2 separate regions of the Homo sapiens genome follow, and region 1 is reported to be linked to region 2. Evidence: microRNA targets listed by miRTarBase, many of them from high-throughput screens and not tested one by one. Region 2 holds a microRNA gene; the other region holds the end of a gene's coding sequence.
What was found. The annotated mature microRNA hsa-miR-1224-3p reads CCCCACCUCCUCUCUCCUCAG and lies in region 2 at 1,134-1,154, opposite strand. An mRNA with a match to its seed (bases 2 to 7 or 8) in the 3' UTR can be bound and repressed. Matches are read on the target gene's strand: a 7mer-m8 pairs with bases 2 to 8, a 7mer-A1 pairs with bases 2 to 7 and ends in A, and an 8mer does both.

Region 1: miRTarBase lists SLC4A1 as a target of hsa-miR-1224-3p. Seed matches in the 3' UTR shown: 7mer-m8 at 889-895 and 7mer-A1 at 1,534-1,540.

The regions. Positions count from the first base shown.
Region 1 is chr17:44,247,010-44,251,009 of GRCh38, reverse strand. SLC4A1 (solute carrier family 4 member 1 (Diego blood group)) reads left to right here. Exons shown (of 20, transcript NM_000342.4): 20 at 472-2,620. The coding sequence ends at 552. Among named protein-coding and RNA genes, the nearest start is that of SLC4A1, 19 kb to the left of the region's middle.
Region 2 is chr3:184,238,150-184,242,622 of GRCh38, reverse strand. It overlaps MIR1224 (microRNA 1224), which reads right to left and starts at 1,218; the gene lies at 1,134-1,218. It overlaps VWA5B2 (von Willebrand factor A domain containing 5B2), which reads right to left. Exons shown (of 20, transcript NM_001390846.1): 13 at 4,149-4,320; 14 at 3,750-4,060; 15 at 3,040-3,229; 16 at 2,587-2,934; 17 at 1,695-1,832; 18 at 1,516-1,599; 19 at 1,219-1,436; 20 at 294-1,133. The coding sequence ends at 585. ALG3 (ALG3 alpha-1,3- mannosyltransferase) reads left to right here. Exons shown (of 9, transcript NM_005787.6): 9 at 1-322. The coding sequence ends at 109. RefSeq lists a silencer at 408-702.

The sequences.
Region 1 (4,000 bases), not on the chromosome of region 2:
TGGAGCACGGGGCCTTGTTTCTCTGTGTCTTCATTTTGCTCACCTGTAAAGGGGGAAATGATGGCACGACTGGGGAGAGCGTCAAGAGGCAGACAGGGTGTGCTGTGAGTGAGCTGGACCCCTAAGCAGCAAGTCCTGCCGTCTTCCGAGTCATTTGGGACAGAGTCACTCCTCTAATAGGATTCTTCCACAGGGTGACTCAGGTCACTGTGGGGCCGCCTTGGTGAAAAGGTCCCCTGCTCACCCTCTGCAGGCCCTCCCCTGCCAGGGTCCACATCCCCGGGGTTGCCTCTCACTTTGACAACGACTCATTTAGGCCAGTCCTAGCTGCTGGGGAGATAAAACAGGACTGGTCCAAGGTTCAAGACAGCCAGACCCTCTCCTAACTCCAGAGGTGCCTTTCGTGCCCGGGGAGGGCTCTTCTGGCCCCAGGGTCTCTCACCCTGTCTCTCTCCTGTCCCTCCCCTCCAGCTGGATGCTGATGATGCCAAGGCAACCTTTGATGAGGAGGAAGGTCGGGATGAATACGACGAAGTGGCCATGCCTGTGTGAGGGGCGGGCCCAGGCCCTAGACCCTCCCCCACCATTCCACATCCCCACCTTCCAAGGAAAAGCAGAAGTTCATGGGCACCTCATGGACTCCAGGATCCTCCTGGAGCAGCAGCTGAGGCCCCAGGGCTGTGGGTGGGGAAGGAAGGCGTGTCCAGGAGACCTTCCACAAAGGGTAGCCTGGCTTTTCTGGCTGGGGATGGCCGATGGGGCCCACATTAGGGGGTTTGTTGCACAGTCCCTCCTGTTGCCACACTTTCACTGGGGATCCCGTGCTGGAAGACTTAGATCTGAGCCCTCCCTCTTCCCAGCACAGGCAGGGGTAGAAGCAAAGGCAGGAGGTGGGTGAGCGGGTGGGGTGCTTGCTGTGTGACCTTGGGCAAGTCCCTTGACCTTTCCAGCCTATATTTCCTCTTCTGTAAAATGGGTATATTGATGATAATACCCACATTACAGGATGGTTACTGAGGACCAAAGATACATGTAAAATAGGGCTTTGTAAACTCCACAGGGACTGTTCTATAGCAGTCATCATTTGTCTTTGAACGTACCCAAGGTCACATAGCTGGGATTTGAACTGAGCCGTGCAGCTGGGATTTGAACCAGGCCTTCTGATTTCAAGGTCCGAGCTCTGTCCTCTGTCAGTCATGCGTCCACTTTCCCTTCCCCTGTGACTCCTCCCTTCCCCACTCTGCTCCCAGCCCCTACCTTGAGACCCTCTTCTCTGGGCCCAGAGAGAGGCGTCCTGGTGAGGACAAGGTACAGGCAAGGATGATCCAGGGATTGGGCCTGGGACTCAGGCCTCCTAAGTGTTTGGTTCCTCCCTCCAAACACTCATTAGTTCACTCATTCATTCATTCCACAAACATTTACTGAGGGCCCCGGAATCAGTGGACTCCGAGGGGACTGAGACAAGCCCTGCCCTGGGGTGGGGGTGGGGGGCAAGGTACAGTTGATTCTACATTTGGATAGGGAGTGGGGGAGGGTGGGAAGGTAGGGGCGGGAGAGTGAGGGGGTTTGTAATTTATTAATTGCGTATTTTCTAAGAGTTTTCAACATAGTTTGGCTTCACACACAACTTCAGGCCCCTCATTTGAGAGCCATTATCCTCAACTCCATCTAAACTGAATCTTGGGGAGAACCCAGATCTGACCAATTGGGGTAGGAGACAGCAGGCTCTCCAAGAACATGGGCAAATTTATTTTTTTATAAAACAAAAAGATAAAAAGAGTTGAAAGACGTGAAAGTGGTGAGAGATGGAGGAAACAGAATCAGGAAGTGGTAGAAAAGAGAGGAGGTGGCTGGGCGCAGTGGCTCACGTTTGTAATCCCAGCACTTTGGGAGGCCAAGTTGGGCGGATCATTTGAGGTCAGGAGTTTGAGACCAGCCTGGCCAACATGGTGAAACCCCGTTACTACTAAAAATACAAAAATTAGCTGGGTGTCTCGTGGCAGGCACCTGTAATCCCAGCTACTTAGAAGGCTGAGGCAAGAGAATCACCTGAACCCAGGAGGTGGAGGTTGCAGTGAGCCAAGATTGCACCACTGCACTCCAGCCTGGGCAACAGAGCGAGACCCTGTCTCAAAAAAAAAAAAAAAAAAAAAAAAAAAACGGAAGGAAACATCAGCCTTGGGGGCCACAGACTCAACATGTGTGTGTGGTGGGGTTCCAGCCCAACATAGAGTAACATTATTTGTACCTCCCAGGCTAGCTCAGTCCATGGGAGGCTCTCCTGTCCCTGAAAGCTGACACCCACCTTTCACCACTTCGCCCATGCTACAGTTCAGTTTCCTCGTCTGTAAAATGGGGATGATAATGGTACCTACCTTGCAGTGTTGTTATAAGGATTAAAGGAGACAGTGCAAGAAAAGGCCTTGGTTGGTGAAGAGCCCAACCTCGGAGGGGAGCTGCTGGGATCCTCCTTATCTTGACTGGGATGTCCCTGTCTCCCCCTCCCCTTGCTCCTTGAACATGGCCAAGGAAAGTGAAAAACAAAAATTATTCACTCTGCTAGCACCCTTCCCCTTGATGCCTGGGAATAGGTTTTGCCAATAAACGTATCTGTGTTGGAGTGGCTGCCTTGCCTGAATTCCCGTTCCCAGAGTCGGGGGTCCCGGGGGTCTTGGCTGAACTAGGTGGGCATGGTGTGTGTGGCACGGGCCTGGCACAGGGCTGCATCTATGCAGCAAGGGGAGCCAGGCTGAGGTGTGACCCTGAGCCCTAGGGTGGGAGGCCAGCACCCAGAGAGTGGGTAGGGAGCAAGAGATGAGATTATGCTCTGAGACTCCTTCCTCTCCTGAATAAGCAAGACCTGTGGGGGTGGGAGGAGGGACTGTAAGGGGACCTTGCCCCCTGCTCCTTATACTTGTGAGCCCCCAATTCCCTTTAGATCAGTGGACCCCTTACCGGGAAGCTGGACAGCACCTTTGACAGAGATGACCAGAGAAGAAAACAGAGGCCCAGAGAGGGCACATGGCCACACAGGCACAGCGTCTCCTGGCCAGCTTTCTGCTTACCCTCATCCTGGTCCCCTTTGGAGGCTCTGTCCCCTACCCCCAACCACTTCCAGCAATTCTAGGGTGTTGCTGGGCTAGGTGTCCCCCACCCCGGGAGAGGAGGGTTCCAGGACTGGACATCTGCCCTCCCTAGACTTCCAACGAGAGGTCAGTGCAGGGCTGGGCCGCCTGGCTTCCTGCCCTAGATCTATATTTACTGCCTATCCCCAGCTGACCCCTCCCAGGCTAGCCAGGGCAGCTGCCAAAGGGTCAGAGAGCTAACTCTGCCAGGGGAGAGCCGTCCCAGCGTCCACCTCCCACACACAGCAGCTGCAGATCCCCACAGCCCTGGCCCTGTCCCCAGGGCTTGCCAGACCCTCCATTCCCCACGTCCATGTACCCAGAAGTCAGGCTATGAGACAAGCCTGAAGAGAGCTCAGGCCACCGGCATCCCCAGGCCTCTTCCACAGGCTGGCTGTGCAACCTGGGAAAAGCCAGTCCCCTCTCTGGGTCTCCGTTTTCTACTGGGCTAATTCTTCCTGGTAGATCCTTTCCATCGCCTGGAAAAGGATCCTTTCCATCCTTTTCCAGCTCATCATATCTGGACTTAGGGGAATAAATGCTGCCTCAATTTGGGGGACCACTTCCTGCCCCTGCCAAGGGTTAAGCCCCTCTCCATGTTTTTAATTGCAATTCTGAAACACTACCTGGAGCTTGGGCAGCAGGGGAGGCTGGGACCCTGGCCAGAATCCCTAGGGCATTGCTACACAGTGGGGCTCTGGGACCAGCAGCAGTGCCATTTCTAGGGAGCTTGCCAGTAATCTAGGAGCTCAGGCCCTGCCCCAGAGTTGAGAAATAAGAATCTGCATTTTAACCAGATCCCCAGGTGATGTCCAGCACGGGAAGCTGGGCCTTAAGAACAGAGAGCCAGGGAGCAGAGCGAGGGTGTGCAGACT
Region 2 (4,473 bases):
CTGCAGCTCTGCTGCCCTGCACATATGCCATGCCGTCATCCTGCTGCAGCTCTGGCTGGGCCCGCAGCCTTTCCCCAAGAGCACCCAACACAGCAAGAAAGCCCACTGAAGTCCACCCCTTTCCCTCAGGACCTGAGTCTACCCTCAGGACCTGGGGTTGGTTGGACTCTGCCCTTCCAAATAAACCTTGCTAAGTCCAACTCTGTGCAACCTACATGGAGGTGGGGGCAGCCGATGCCTGGTCCAGGCTGTGAGGGACACGTATGGAGCAGATAAAGAATTCACTCAAGCAGTCCTAAGAGGCACTTTATTGCATAGGATTTGGGGACTGTGGCTCTCTACCCTTCCACTGTGTTGCAGGGAGCTCAGAGGATGGAGGGGAGTGTGAGTGGGGTGGGAGGAGAGGGAGAGAGCACAGGCAGGCACTTTTTGTGGGGGCAAGAGGGCTCTAGGGAGGGAGTAAGAAGCAGTGGGGGACAGGCTGGCACCAGCCTACACTTTCCCAGCACCAAGAGGCCAGCCCTGGGCGGCAGTGACTTGAGTGTGTTGGGTGGGGCGCCAGCCCAAGCAGCAGGGGGCAGCCTTCACACGTTCGCTGGGCTGTAGCACAGCAGGTGTAGCTGCAGGTTTTGGTCCCAGTGGCGCAGTAGCAGGAAGAGCCCTCGGGCTGCGGCCTTGAGGGCGGCCAGGTCAAGGCCGTCAGGCAAGTGCTGGGCCCGCAGCCAGCAATCAGCCTTGGCCGCTGTCAGTTCCCACTCGTCGAAGGCAGCGGCGCATCGGTGCTCCAGCCAGGCGAGTGCTACGGCAGTGGCCCAGGTCCGGCCCCGCAGGTCGGTGCCGCCCAGCCCTTCCGCCCCCTCGGAGGCCTCGGTGTCTGAGCCCCGCCCACTGTCCACCTGGCCTGGCCCCTCAGAGCCCGAGCTGGGGGACGGGCTGCAGGAGGCCGTGGCACTGTCACCCTGGCCAACACCAGGGCCCAGAAGTGCCCAGGGCAATGAGGCCGAGGTGGGGCTGAGGCTGGCGCGGTGCACGGCAAAGGGCGAGGCACGGCAGAGGCGCTCCTGCGAGATGCGCACAGCGGCGCAGAAGGGCGCGTCCAGGCGGAAGGAGCCTGGTGCCTCCTGCAGCCGCACCTGAGGAGAGAGGAGGTGGGGGGAGAAGCGAGCTGAAACAGCGCCCGGCCCCGGCGGCACCACCCTCCACCTCCCGAGTCCTCACCAAGGGCAGGTAGTCATGGTCGCTGCCTTCACTGTTGTTGGCCTGGCCCGGGTCAGGGCTACAGAGTTTGTGACGGCGGCCCATGCTGAGCCGACAGGGAGGACGGGGAGGTGGGCGGCGAGGACCTTCCGTGGGAGTGGCAGGGTCCCCCAAAGCACGCTTGGAGTTGCCATTTTGGTCCGAGTCCCAGGCGCCTGCTGGAGAGCCTCTCTGAAGTCCTGCAGTGGGGATCATCAGTGCCAGGGGGCGGTCTCTAAGCCCAAGTGCCCCTACCCTTTCCCTACCTTTGGGTGTTACCTTTAGAGTAGACAACAGTGGGCAGAGGAGCTGCATCTAGATGGCTGTGAGAGGCAGGAGGGGTTCCTGGGGGCTCAGCGGGCTCTGCAGGGGCACATGGGACAGGAGTCAGGTTTGTCCAGGAGAGTGGCCAGTGAGGTGAGAGCTGCACCTGAGAGGTCACCAGAAGAGGCCCCTACCTGAGCTGCACACCTGCAGGGCCCCAGGCAGGACCTCCCTAGTAGTAGCATCCACAGCTACAGGGCAAGTGAAGCAGGAGGGGGCAGAGCTGACCTTACTTGTCTGAAGGGCTCGAAGCCAGCACCTCCGGGCATGGCCTGTGGAACCAAGGAGCAGTCTGTGGAGCCCCCACCACCCACCCTCTACAGAGGGCTCATAGAAAAAATTGCAGTGTTCTCCCCAGCTTCTCCCTCTATCGACTTTAACAGAGTAGATTGCCTTGCTAGGCCCAGAACCAGCTCAGACTCCCCAACTTTGACAAGAAGTGATCAGGCTGAATCTTCAACCCATAGCAGAGCAAGAGCCCCCTGGCTGCCCAGAAATTCAGCACTCTGGACAACACCCAGAGGAAGCATTAGCTGGCACATTTTCCTCCACCTGCTTCTGCACTAATAAAACTTGGAAATGTTCTCTCTCTTCATGATCCAATGTGGTAGCCACTAGTCACATTTGACTATTGAGTACTTCAGCTGTGGTTAGTGCAACTGAGGAAATGAACTTTAAGTATTTTCCTAAATGACAAAGATTTGTTTTTACGTTGTGGGTGCTGTGAATCATGACAGGATCACGTTGCCCTCTGTGCTGGCTGCTAGGAAGCTTGTCAGTTCTGGATCTGATCCTTGCAAGAGTATATAACCTCACAGCATGCACCTTTAATATAACCTCATTCTCAGTTTCCTTTTATTTTTACTTTTTCCCATTGTCCCGCTTAATTTTTTATCTTGTCTGTGATGAGCCTCAAATCCTTTGTGATCAAAGCGAGGTATAGAGAGTGATCAAACACACAGACCTCTACCTTTGCTGTTTTTAGCCCATGCCTTTGGGTCCTGACTGGACCCATGAGCAACTCACCCCGGTCAGCTGTGGTCTCTGCCCCTCCTCGGAGGGCCAGCTGCTCATTGTCCCGGACCACAGAGGCTGCTGTCAGCCGATGGAGTGCTTGGTCCCAAGCAGCTTCTCTTACAGGAGGTGAGGGAGGCTGTGAGCCATCTCCAGGTCCCCACAGTGTCTCCAGCCCAACACCCACCTCCCAGCACATGGGCTGCTCCCCACACAGGCCCCGGATCACCACATGGCAGCGTGGAGCCTGGGGAGGCACTGCTGGAGGGGCCAACTCCCCACTAGGAGGCACAGCCGTGAATAAGAAGGGTGGTTCCATCAGCATGTCCCAGTCCATAGGGGCTGGGGAGAGCAGGTTTCCTGGGGAGGCAAGACAGCAGGGGCATGGGCAGAGTGGTCCTCTGGGCTTTACCTCCCCAAGGCCTCTTTGGTGTCAGGGAAACCAGCTCCCCATCCAACACTTACCTGAGTCATCCAGGCCTTGTCCCAACTGTTGGCCTGGCTCAGGACTTGGGCCATCTAGTATTGCACCCAAAGAGGGTTTCCGGGGTCGGCCGGGGACTTGGTTTGCCCGGCCTGGAGGGGATGAGAGGCTTCGGCCAGCCAGAGCCGCTCTGTGCTGACGGCCCAGCACCTCAGTACTCAAGGCCCCCACCTGCATGTGAGATATGGGGGCCACTGGTCAAGGAATGCAGAACCCTTGACCATCATACATGGGTGCACAGCTGGCCCATGCCCCTTTTCTGAAACCCTGGGTGGCCGCTCACCAGCTTGAGGAGGAAGGCCAAGTTCCTTATGGCCTACAGTGACCTCTGGCCTTGGCCCCTTCCCAGCATCATCCCACTCCACTCCCTATTTCCCACTTGTGGTTGTTGCTTGTCTCTGTATTTTCGTTTATGTCTTCTCCCTCTCTGCATGGCTAACTCGTGCTTATTCTTCCAGATATGGCTCTGACTTTCCTGACTCTCTCAGGCAGAATTAGTCACCCTGACTTTAAGCCCCCTTAATACATGTCCTTGTGCTCATCACTGGTTGTTACATGGTATCGTTGGGGATTTACCCACCTTTCTCTCTAGCTAGACTTAATAGTAAACTCTACATAATATCTGGTGCACAGCAGGTGGTAAATAAATATTTGCTGGATACAAGGCGAATGAATGTGGGTTGGATCTCACCTTGAATGGAGCTGGTGTGGGTGCAGGCAGGGGACAGGAGCGGGAGCCTGCAGGTTCTCCCCAGGCCAGACTGCGGCAGCCCTGCTGAGAAGGGGGCTCCAAGGGAGCACTACCTTCGGGGGAGCCAGGGCCCTGTGAGCCTGGGGACTCACTGCTGCCTGTGGAGCCTGGGCCTGGCTCGGGGCTGGCAGAGCAGTGGGTGAGCACATACTGCTCCCGAATGTACGAGGACTGAAAGATGCGGCGCCATATGGCTGTGTCAGAGGGGTTGGGTCCAGGATCCGTGACTGGGTCTGTCAGAGCATCAGTACCTGCTGGGAGGCAGTAGAATGGGCCCTAGCCCTGACCCCTCCCAGCGCCCACTCCAATACAGCCACACACATACACCTGGGCACTCACTCTGCTCCGAGTCCCTGGCAGCCCATGGGCTGGACAGTTCTGCTGAGACAGTGCCTGTTCCCAGTGGCTCTGAGGTGCCAGTGGGCTCAGTGCCAGGGCTGGCAGCAGACGGGGCCTCTTCTGGGGATGGAAACACGGACCCACCCGAGCTCTGCCAGCCAGGCTCTTGGCCCTAGAGAGAATATTATTGGGAAAAAAATTAACTGCAGTTATGTGCTACCTCTTTCCAAACATTTTTAGATGGCTCACAGCAAGAGGCAACAAAGCTAATAAACCAGAAACAAAAGACCAGTACTAAAGAAGGAGGAAGCAGACATGTTCACTG